2 separate regions of the Homo sapiens genome follow, and region 2 is linked to region 1. The links come from fine-mapping of genetic effects on gene expression. A gene starts in region 1. The other region holds a variant in brackets. All regions are shown on one strand. Distances are from middle to middle. Region 1 holds the start of USP7 (ubiquitin specific peptidase 7). Region 2 overlaps USP7 (ubiquitin specific peptidase 7).

Region 1 (5,520 bases):
AATCCCAGCTACTTGGGAGGCTGAGGCAGGAAAATCGCTTGAACCCGGGAGACGGAGGTTGTAGTGACCCGAGATCGCGCCACTGCACTCCAGCCTGGGCAACAAGAGCAAAAATCCGTCTCAAAAAAAAAAAAGGGGGGGGGGGGCAAATACCTTGAAATTTGTGGACCTGGTCATTTTCCCAAAGATACAGGTCTGTAACACACATGCTCTGCAGTAATGTCTGTTTATTAATTCTCACTAGTGTCCAAAAACACCTGGAAAGCGGTAGGACAATGTCATGGGAAATCCATATGCTCGTGTTATTGGATATTTGTCTTGACCGGGTACCATTTGAAAAGGAAACTGAAAAGCAACCCTCTTTTATGTTTTAGATGGGCTGCAAAATACAGCACAAAAGGAATACACAAAATTCCCTCAGTAAAGTACTTCTTTTCAGCTATTTGGTTTAATCACACATAACAGGCGCTCTTAGTTGCTGCTTTGCTGGGGCCAAGTGAAACAGATAACCCAGTCCTTGGCGTGGACTCCGCTCTTCTGTCCCCCATTACTGCCATTGATAAATACCACTGGGGAGTGCCTACTGCAGAATCCCAGCCACTTTGTCATTTGCAACCTGGCCAGCCATTTTTTCAGTGACTATCCAATTACTGGAAGTAAGTTATTCTATTCAGAGGTGAACACCAGTCACGCTTAAGTGTTCCCACCAACCGGTGTGCAGCGCCCCACACTTGGAGCCACCGCACAGGACAAATACTGCTTTTCCTGAGCTCCCCTGGAGCTTCATTCATTGAGGCAACCCAAGATCCCTTGCTAAAAGCAAAACTAAAGCATTCCACGCCGTTTTCATTCAGGTGGCCTCCATTTGACTCCCGACAGCCTGAACTCGTCACGTAGGTAAGAAAACTTTTTAAAGACCATTTGGACTTTGCTTTGTTTCAGTGAAATGGGTCGTGAGAAAAAGTGCCTTCCAACGACCAACTCCCTAAATCCAACACCCTTCTCTTTACAGCGTCTTCACATCCAACCTTTACAACCAAGACTCTATACCTCAAACTACAGTGCCTTGGAAAATTACTGCCACATCGGCAGAAAACCGAGTTACCTTTCGAGTCAGGTTTGATTCTGATGCAGGCAGCCATGTGCGGCAGGGCTTTCGCACGGTTGCAAGCGCACACCTGGCCGGATGCTGGCTGCACCACACACTGCCAAGTACAAACTCCCCGAAAAACAGGTGGATTCGGAAACCAACAGCGCCCGGGTCAGAACTCTGGGCCAGTCCAAAACCTGACAACATCTGCGTTCCTTGCAGGTATTTTCGAACGTAAGCCCGACGCTAGGCAGTGCTGTTAGAAAGTGATTTGGAAGAGCGCTTCCGAGCCACGGCGCGCCCTCCGGGGGAGCGCACCGGAGCAGGTGCGGGCGAGCCCCGCGCCCGGGGAGGTCAGGAATTCCCCAGCCACACCAGATCCAACCGGACGCCCCAGAACGGGGACGGTCCCCGGAGTCCGCCTCCCAACCTGGGTGAGAAAACACCTCCGTCCCTCCGCTGCCTGAGCGCTCGAATTTACAACTCAGGGCGCTTTGTGCCGCGGAGGCCCGGCGGACGCGAGGTCGGGACAATGCACGGGGCCGGGGTCCCGGCGGCCGCCCCTCGCCCGCGGACCCGGCATGACTTTGCAGCCTCGCAGGCCGGGGCCGGGAGGCCAGGCCGAGGCCCGGCGGCCGCCCGGGGCCTGGTTAAAGATGGCGAGCCCCTCGCGTGGCTCCCGCGGCTCCCCCGGCCACAATGAAAGGCGCCCCCCGGCCCCGCCGCGGCCGGCCCTCGGGCCTCACCTTCCATCTCCATGTCCTCGGGCTCGCTCAACTGCTGCTCGCCCGCTTTCTGCTGCTGCTGCTGCTGCTGGTGGTTCATGTCGGCCGCGGCCTGGGCCTCGCCTGCGGCCGGGGGCCGGGGCTGCGAGCCCGGCGGGCGGGCGGCGGCGAGCCGGGGCGGCGGCGGCGGCGGCGGCGGCGGGGCGGCCTCCTCCTCCTCCTCCCGCGCGTCGTCGGCGACGGCGGCCCCGGGGCGGCCCGCGGCGGGCGGCGGCGGCGGCAGGGAGACGCGCACGTACTTGCTCGCGATTCGCCCAATCTCGGCGCCGAGGCGGGCGGGCGGCCGGCGGGCCGGGCCGGGCGGCCTCGTCGCTCGCTGCGGCCGCCGCCGCCGCCGCCGCGGGGCCCGCCTCCCGCCGCCGGGGCCGGGGCCGGGGCTGCGGGGCCGCGGGCCGGCCGGGGGCGGAGGGCGGCCGGTCGGGGGCCGCGGAGTCAGCCCCGCCTCGGGCCGGGCGCGGCGGACGGGAGGCCTGGCCGGCCGCGGCGGGCCTGCGGGCCCTGGGGCCGGCGGGAGCGGCGGAGCGGGCGGGCGACGGGCCGGCCGCGTTCCGAGAGCCGCGGCCTCCGCCTCCTCGGCGTCGTCGTCGGGGCTCCGGCAGCGGACGCGGCGCCCGGCAGCTCGGCTCGGCTCGCTCTCAAAATGGCGGCGGCGTGAAATGTCACATCCGCATGGGGGGCCGCGGAGCGAGCGAGCGAGCGAGGAGAGCAAGCGGGCGGGCGCCGAGCCGGAGGGCGGAGCGGGAGCGCAGGGCGGAGCACGGGAGGCGGAGCAGGGAGCGACCCGCCTGCCGCCGCCGCCGAGGCCCGCCTGCCCCGCAGCGCCGCGCCCCGGCACCGCCTGCGCCGCAGCCCCGCGGCGGACCCTCGGCGCTCCCTGCCCCCGGGCCCTGGGGGCCGAGGCGGGCCGCCCGGTGACTTAGCCCTGCGGAGGTGAACCGGAATCCTTCCCATCCTGGGGAGCCGGACACCCCGAAAGACCCAGGAGCGGCAATGAGGAGGGGCCCAGAAGCCACCCGGCAGCCGGGGTTCAGGTCCCAGCCTAGCGCGCCGGGGCGAGCGCTGGAGGTTGCCCGGGGACTGCTCGGGATAGGGCCCGGAAGGGAGCTTGGGGTCAGCGCCTAGAAGTTCCTGTTATTGTCGTTACTTACCCTTGCCCGCTGACGTGCACTTTTTCACCCAGTATCTACCGTGGAAGAATTTATTTTCTCACTGTCAGCCTAATCTGGCAAAGTTTGGCTCCTCAAGAGCAACCCCAGGCGGGGCGCAGCTGCTCACACCTGTGATCCCAGCACTTTGGGAGGCCGAGGTGGGAGAATCACTTGAGGCCAAGAGTAAGAGACCACCCTCTCTACAAAGGTTTTGGGTTTTGTTTTTATATTTTTGAAATGTATTTTTAATTAGCCGGGTGTTGTGCCTCCTGCCTGTAGTGACAGCTACTTGGGAGGCTGAGGCTGGAGGTTCGCTTGGGAGGTTGACTGAGGCTGCAGTGATCAAAGATGGCGCCACTGCACTCCAGCCTGGGCAACAGAATGAGACCCTGTCTCAACTAATAGTGATAATAAAATAATAATATAAAAATAAAACAAGCCCACTACCCTTCACATTTGGTATTAATTTACTTCCTTCCTATCAACCCAGTCTGGGATCATTCACCCGGGGCCTCCCTATTCCAGGAGACATTTGGTGAATATATCTCCTGTCCTGTCTCATTCAGTCATTGACAGACTGATGATTAGGGTCTCAACTTTTCCAGTTAATCAAGGCAGTGTGGGTCAATAAAAATGGAGCAAACCGATATACATTTCTACACATCTCAGGGGAGAATAGAATTTCACCCTAACAAGGCCAGAAGATTGTGGTACCTGTCTTCTCTCCATCTCCCTATACCCGCTTTCCCTGCATTTTTCTCCCATTTATGTACTGTTCATCTCCCTTCCCCCCGAAAGAATGTTTTGCTCACTGTTGTATCACAAATGCCTGGGATACACAGCAAGTGCTCAATAAAAATTGGTTGGGCCAGGTCGGCGCGGTGGCTCACACCTGTAATCCCAGCACTTTGGGAGGCCAAGGCGGGCGGATCACTTGAGGTCGGGAGTTTGAGACCAGCCTGACCAACATGGAGAAACCCCGTCTCTACTTAAAGTACAAAATTAGCCGGGCGTGGTGGCGCATGCCTGTAATCCCAGCTACTCAGGAGGCCGAGGCAGGAGAATCACTTGAACCCGGGAGGTGGAGGGTGCGGTGCGGTGAGCTGACATCGCGCCATTGCACTCTAGCCTAGGCAACGAGCGAAACTCTATCTCAAAAAAAAAAAAAAAATTGGTTGGGCCAGGCACGGTGGCTCACGCCTGTAATCTCAGCACGTTGGGAGGCCGAGGTGGGCGGATCACCTGAGGTCAGGAATTCGAGACTAGCCTGGCCAACATGGTGAAACCTCATGTCTACTAAAAATACATACAAAAAACTTAGCCGGGCATGGTGGCATACGCTGGTAATCCTAGCTACTCAGGAGGCTGAGGCAGGAGAATTGCTTGAAGCCAGGAGGTGGAGGCTGCAGTCAGCTAATCACACCCCTGCACTCCAGCCTGGGCAATAGAGGGAGATTCCATCTAAAATAAATAAATACATAAATAAATATTGGTTGAATGGGCCAGGCACAGTGGCTTACACCCCTTATGCCAGCACTTTGGGAGATTGAGGCGGGAGGATCAATCACTTGAGCCCAGGAGTTGGAGACCAGCCTGGGCAACATAGGGAAACCCGATCTCAATCAGCCAATCAATTAATCAATCATTAGTCAACTGGTTGAATGAACATATGATTCAAGCGTGACTGGATCCCCCTCACCAGCATTTCGTACGCTTGAAGGTTTTTCACCAGTATATTTCCTGCCAGACCACAGAGGTGAGCAGGGGAGAGCCCAGTCACTTCAAAGGAATCCCTTGGGTCACCCCCAGAATCTGAAGAAGAGGTATTGTTATTCACACAGATTCTCACAAATGCTAATCAACAGCGCTCAGATGCAAAAGAGTCCTTCTCTCTAGTATTCTGGAAGCTTGGAGGAGGGAAGAAAGTGCCTTTCTGGCAGAGGAAGAGGTGGCAGAAAGTTATGTATATGGCTGTCAGTTCACATTGGCCAACCTTATCCTCATCACTGAGTTCAAAACCAATCTGGCCGGGCACGGTGATTCACGCCTGTAATCCCAGCACTTTGGGAGGCTGAGGCGGGCGGATCATGAGGTCAGGAGTTCGAGACTAGCATGACCAACATGGTGAAACCACGTCTCTACTAGAAATACAAAAATTAGCCGGGCATGGTAGCGCGCCTGTAATCCCAGCTACTCAGGAGGCTGAAGCATGAGAATCGCTTGAACCTGGGAGGTGGAGGTTGCAGTGAACCGAGATTGCACCACTGCACTCCAGCCTGGGCTATAGAACGAGACTCTGTGTCAAAAAAAAACAAAAAACAAAAAACAAAAAACACACAATATCTCTCTCTCTTTCTAGAAGCACCTTGAGGAAGAAATTGTCTTGTCTACAGCTCTATCCTCAGTACAGCACCAAGCTTACAGTGGATGCTCAGTGAAGATTTGCCGATTTGCCGAATGAATGCTTTCACCCCTGCAACTGTTTACTGCCTGCTAG
Region 2 (5,000 bases), 22 kb before region 1:
TTTATTTCTACTTTTGAGTTCTGAAAGAAGTAAACACAAGCAAGCAAATGTTAGCTAGCAACAATGCAGACATAGATAAGGAGAAATCAACTGGCCTTCCCTGAGTGCTAACATGAAGGAAACCATGAATGTTTCACCTCCAGGCATTCTCAATGTAATGTTCATATGTACATATCATGTACATTGCTCGTGCACTTTTTCTCATGAAGGAAAACACATATACTATTCACATTACGTGGGTAAGTTTAATAACTCCAAAACATTGTCATGATTTATCAACCACTCCCCTAAAGAAGACTGTTTCTGGCCGAGCGCAGTGGCTCACGCCTGTAATCACAGCACTTTGGGAGGCCAAGGAGGGCAGATCACGAGGTCAGGAGATTGAAACCATCCTGGCTAACACGGTGAAACCCCGACTCTACTAAAAATACAAAAATTAGCCAAGCATGGTGGCACATGCCTGTAATCCAAGCTACTTGGGAGGCTGAGGCACAAGAATTGCTTGAACCAGGGAGGCGAAGGTTGTAGTGAGCTGAGATCATGCCACTGAACTCCAGCATGGGTGACACAGCAAGACTCTGTCTCCAAAAAAAAAAGGCTGTTTCCATCCAGGTTTTTCCTGTATTTTTGTGACTCCAAATGATGCTCTCACAAACAGCTCTGTCCTGTGGCTCCCATCCTGCTGCCTATCTACGCATCCTATAGCCAGGTCACCTGTCTAGGCATCCTACAGCCAGGTCATATACACATCTGGCCTCTGCAAGTAGCTAACCATGCTTTGTCCAATGGCAAATGTCAACACTGTTATCCAAGAACCAGAACACCGCCAAATGCTCTGGTGAGCTCCAGCACAGGACCAGCCTCCAGCACAGTGCTCAGGAGAACTCTTCGGCTTCTTGAACACAACGAGAGGCAGAAGGTGTACTAGGAATGTCCAAGAAGCTGGGCGCCACCATCAAGGCTGTTGATCAGAGTGGGAGGGCAGGGGTTACCTTGGGACCAGGCAACCCAGGGCGGGAGGTGGGGCAGTTACAGCAATGGCCCCTGCATCAGAAAGGGAGAGGTGGGAGCCTGTAAGCTCCCGAGGCATCCACAGAAACAGGGACGATGGTGGCAGCCAAAAAAGACGGAGTTACCACACTCCCTAAGAAGCTCCTGACCGCCATCTTCTAGACATTTCCAGGGAGTGGGAAAGATCAGAGGCTGTGGAGTGAGATCAATCCCCTCTGCGAGGCCTCTCCTAGGTGAAGCTCAAGCTGGCTTCAGGTAGGGCCCTGGAATATTAGCCGGACATGGTGGCGCACACCTGTAATCCAAGCTACTTGGGAGGCTGAGGCAGGAGAATCACTTATATACAGTGTCCAGAACCTGGAATATATACAGTCTCCAGAACCTGGAGGTAATCAAGTGGGGGTGAAGGTCATAATAGGATACAATAAAGTCAGGAATAGCAGGACAGAATTCTCTCTCCTCCCACTCCAGGACCCTTCTTCTCGTCCAGCACTCAGGGACTCAAGGTTCACCTTCCAGCCACTGATTGGAAAGTGGTAGGTGCTGGCCAGGCCACACTGCCCATGTTTGCCAAGGAGCTGCTGCCCAATTCACATGGGGCCCATGCCCCATGCCCATGAGGACCCCCCGCCCCACCACCAAATTACTTCCCAGCCCTCACGCCCTCTGTGCCTGACTGGATACCTGAAACCTCTTGGAAGGAGCCAATTCCAGAACATGAACCTAAGTGGAAAAATTAACTATGCTCAAACATAACCCTGAAAGCACCTTTCTAAGCTGCTACCATTAGCTAGGATTTCATGCATCCCCTAAAGGGTGGACATACCCTACATATCCTGCAGTCTGCGGTTAACAACTTTTTAACAAAGAAAACATCTTATTCTGTAGCCTAATACGTTACTTTTCCAGACAGGAAGGACCTGAGGGGTAAAGGCACGTATCTCCAGCCGCATTTCAGCAGAGCCCACCCTCTTCTCGCAGGTCAACCGACATGTCCAGTAACTTGTCCTAAGCCAAAACACATTTCGGCTTTTTTGTCCACGCACGATAGCAACATCAGAGTGTAAATAAGTTAGTCTGCCAATTCGCTTAGTATCTTCCTTCTAGTACCTTGTAGCCTTGCTTGGTACCAGGAAAGACAAAGACCAGGCCGTGTTGGTGTGGTGAGGAGTGAGGGGACGGGCAGAGCCAGGATCAGCTGTGTTGGGTGGTGCGTGCTGTGAAGTCAGGCCTGCCTCTCCCCAGGTGTGAGACCACCGGCCAGCCACTGACCCTTCCAAGCCTCCGTCTCTGACAGATGGGCTGGGCCCAGGGTTCGGCAGGGAACTGGGTGGACACGCCTCCTGGTCTCCTGGTGCTCACTAGGAAGTGGGAGGCAAGTCCCTTGGTGATCATTGCAATAGAGGGCAAACGCACACAGTGACAGCCACAGGGCTGGTTCATGTCCCTTAGTCATGAAGGAGGAGACAACTGGCAAGCACAGAGTGGCAAATTCTGTGGCAAGCACAGAGTGCAAGAAGCCTGCCGGCCAGAGATGGAAAAGTGCAGTCCAGGTAGAGCAAACCGCAACAGGAACAGGAACAGGGCAGTGGGAAGGGGAAGGTGGGCAGGGCCAAAGCTATGGAGGGCCTTGAAGGCCACGATAAGCATTCTTAACTTCACTCTAAAATGTTCCCTCCCAGCAGGTGCTCCACCCAATGAACAGGAAGCCATCCATGTCCTTGGGAGGTACTGGGACACTCGGAGTGACTGGGATGCCCAGTGGAGAGTCTGTCGGACCTGAGACAGCCCCAGCATGGGAATCCTGGTACCAGCCCTTGCCAAATATCAAGCAGTGGGGTCTGTCCCACCCTTATCACATGCTAGGGGTCTCCTGACAAGCTCCTTTGCTGTTCTGCAGCACTGTGAGGGTCTGACCACCTGCACCTCACCCCAGCCTGTCAAAGTAGATCCCTGTGTACTCTAAAACGGGGGCCCTCCTAAGTAACTCTGAATCCCTCTGGTCTTATTAACAATATTTGGCTTACGGCTTATTTATTTTTGAGACAGGGTCTCGCTCTGTTGGGCAGGC[T/C]GGAGTGCAGTGGTGCCACCATGGCTCACTGCAGCCATGACCTCCCAGGCTCAAGCAATCCTCCCACCTCAAGCTCTTGAGCAGCTGGGACTACAGGCGCACACCACCACACTCAGCTAGTTTCTGTATTTTTTTGTAGAGACTGGGTCTCACTATGTTGTCCAGGCTGGTCTTGAACTCCTGGCCTCAAGCAATCTCCCAGCTCGGCCTCCAAAAGTGTTGGGGTTACAGACATGAGCCACCACATCCAGCCACTTTGTGATTTTATACCCTCCAGTTATTTGGCCATATGCACCCTCATTAGGCTGGCTGGAAAGCCATTTCCAGGGGACAGTCCTGTCCTACTAAGCTAGGTTGCCTTCAGTTCTGTACCTTTTCAGGCACTGCGGGCCCTGAGGTCAGCCGACCACCTGGCTTTAAGGCAGTGGAGCCTGAGTGTTCAAAGTGGACCCACTTTGACGCTTTGCTCTATATGCTGAAATAATCCTGATGTAAATTAGCTATATGAAAACCAAGCCCCAAAGAAGGCCACATATAATATGTGATCCTTAAATAAAACTATTTGTTTGGAGCTTTCAGTTTAGCTTCATTATGTAAAAATCATCTGTTCCCTAGAGATCATCCTAACTACCAAAAGTGCCTGTCCAAACACTGATGATTGGTTTTAATGCTGTGTTGTGCACTGAGAGGGGTTTAATATACAGCACAAGTAAAGAGCTTATAATTACGCCTGTACTGCTTCTACATGTATAGTCTGCTCCGCAAAAGAAACAGGATTATCTGCTCAACTGTGCAGCACAATGCAAGTAGAAGTTGCAGCACGCACGGCCGGAACCGAGCTGCACAGATGCAGTTAGGGCAAGGGATGCCCCTACCTGGATGGAGATCTGTGACACACAAGAGCCAAAGGATCAACACCGAGAATGCAGGGCCCCAATGCCATGAGAAACACAAACGACTAACCAACAGGCTCCACCTCCCTCGTTAACGTGGGATACCACTCTTCCTCTGCTGGATTAACGGTGAAAAGCAATGGAGATGCCCACCAGTACTGAAGGTCTAGCATATGGGTAGAGTCGAATGGCTGGCGGGAACACACTTTTCTAGAGTCAACTGTCCTTCCCAAAGGCAATATGTATTAAAATCAAAATGTTGAATGTCCTTTCACTCATTTTGAAATGTTACCACAAAAACCCATTCCCCAAGAAAATGAGCATTCACGCTGGGGGATAAACACAAACAGTGCTTCGTGCACTGATGCACAACTTTAAACATAAGTTTAATTTTTCACAGGAAAACATTTTGGTTTTTAAAATTTCATTTCTCTATTAAATTTATTGTATTGCTTATTCTACAATAATTGGGTTTTAAAGCAAAACTATAAGGTGCGGGGGAGGCAGTATACAGGAGTTCAAGACCAGCCTGGGCAAACATAGGGAGACCCCCGTCTCTGAAATTAAAAACAAACAAAAAAGGATGAACTGGGACAATATCCATAATACATCAAGTATATAATGGTAGTTCCCTCTGAGGAACAGAAACTCTCCTTCTTGCCTTTTTGCTTGCATGTTTGAATGTTTCCGGGAATATGCATTACTCTTAAAACAAAAGCAAAAATACGCAGAGCAACAGAGGTGCAAAAAAAAAAAAGCACAGCCAAAATACTGGCTGAGGCTTGACACCCCCTTGGCAGCTGAGAGAGGGGGTGCAACAGCTGCCCGCCTGGAGTCAGGAGGAGGCCAGAGTCCTGGAACAAAGGAATTGCCTGGGCTATTTGTGGCCTGGAAGGTCCATTTACACCTTGGCAACTAAGTAGCAGCTTCCTCTCTTAAATGTCTGTTTTTCCCTAAAAATTATTTGAAAAGACAAGCCAGTTTGGGGACTGGGGATGAGGTCAGAGGTAGAAAGGAGATTTTTA

Evidence for each region. PIP is the estimated chance that this variant, and not a neighbour inherited with it, causes the effect.
Region 2: its variant is the best candidate, but not a certain one, in a credible set for the expression of USP7 in whole blood (TOPMed, PIP 0.64).

Annotation. Positions count from the first base shown.
Region 1 is chr16:8,961,371-8,966,890 of GRCh38, forward strand. USP7 (ubiquitin specific peptidase 7) reads right to left here and starts at 2,536. Exons shown (of 31, transcript NM_003470.3): 1 at 1,837-2,536. The coding sequence starts at 1,915. USP7-AS1 (USP7 antisense RNA 1) reads left to right here and starts at 1,343. Exons shown (of 2, transcript NR_184341.1): 1 at 1,343-1,524; 2 at 5,383-5,520. RefSeq lists enhancers at 907-1,443, 4,140-4,763, 4,764-5,387, 5,388-5,520 and silencers at 2,639-2,998, 4,682-4,976.
Region 2 is chr16:8,939,513-8,944,512 of GRCh38, forward strand. All of the region lies in intron 1 of USP7 (ubiquitin specific peptidase 7), which reads right to left. Among named protein-coding and RNA genes, the nearest start is that of USP7-AS1, 21 kb to the right of the region's middle. The variant T/C (reference allele first, on the strand shown) is at 3,083.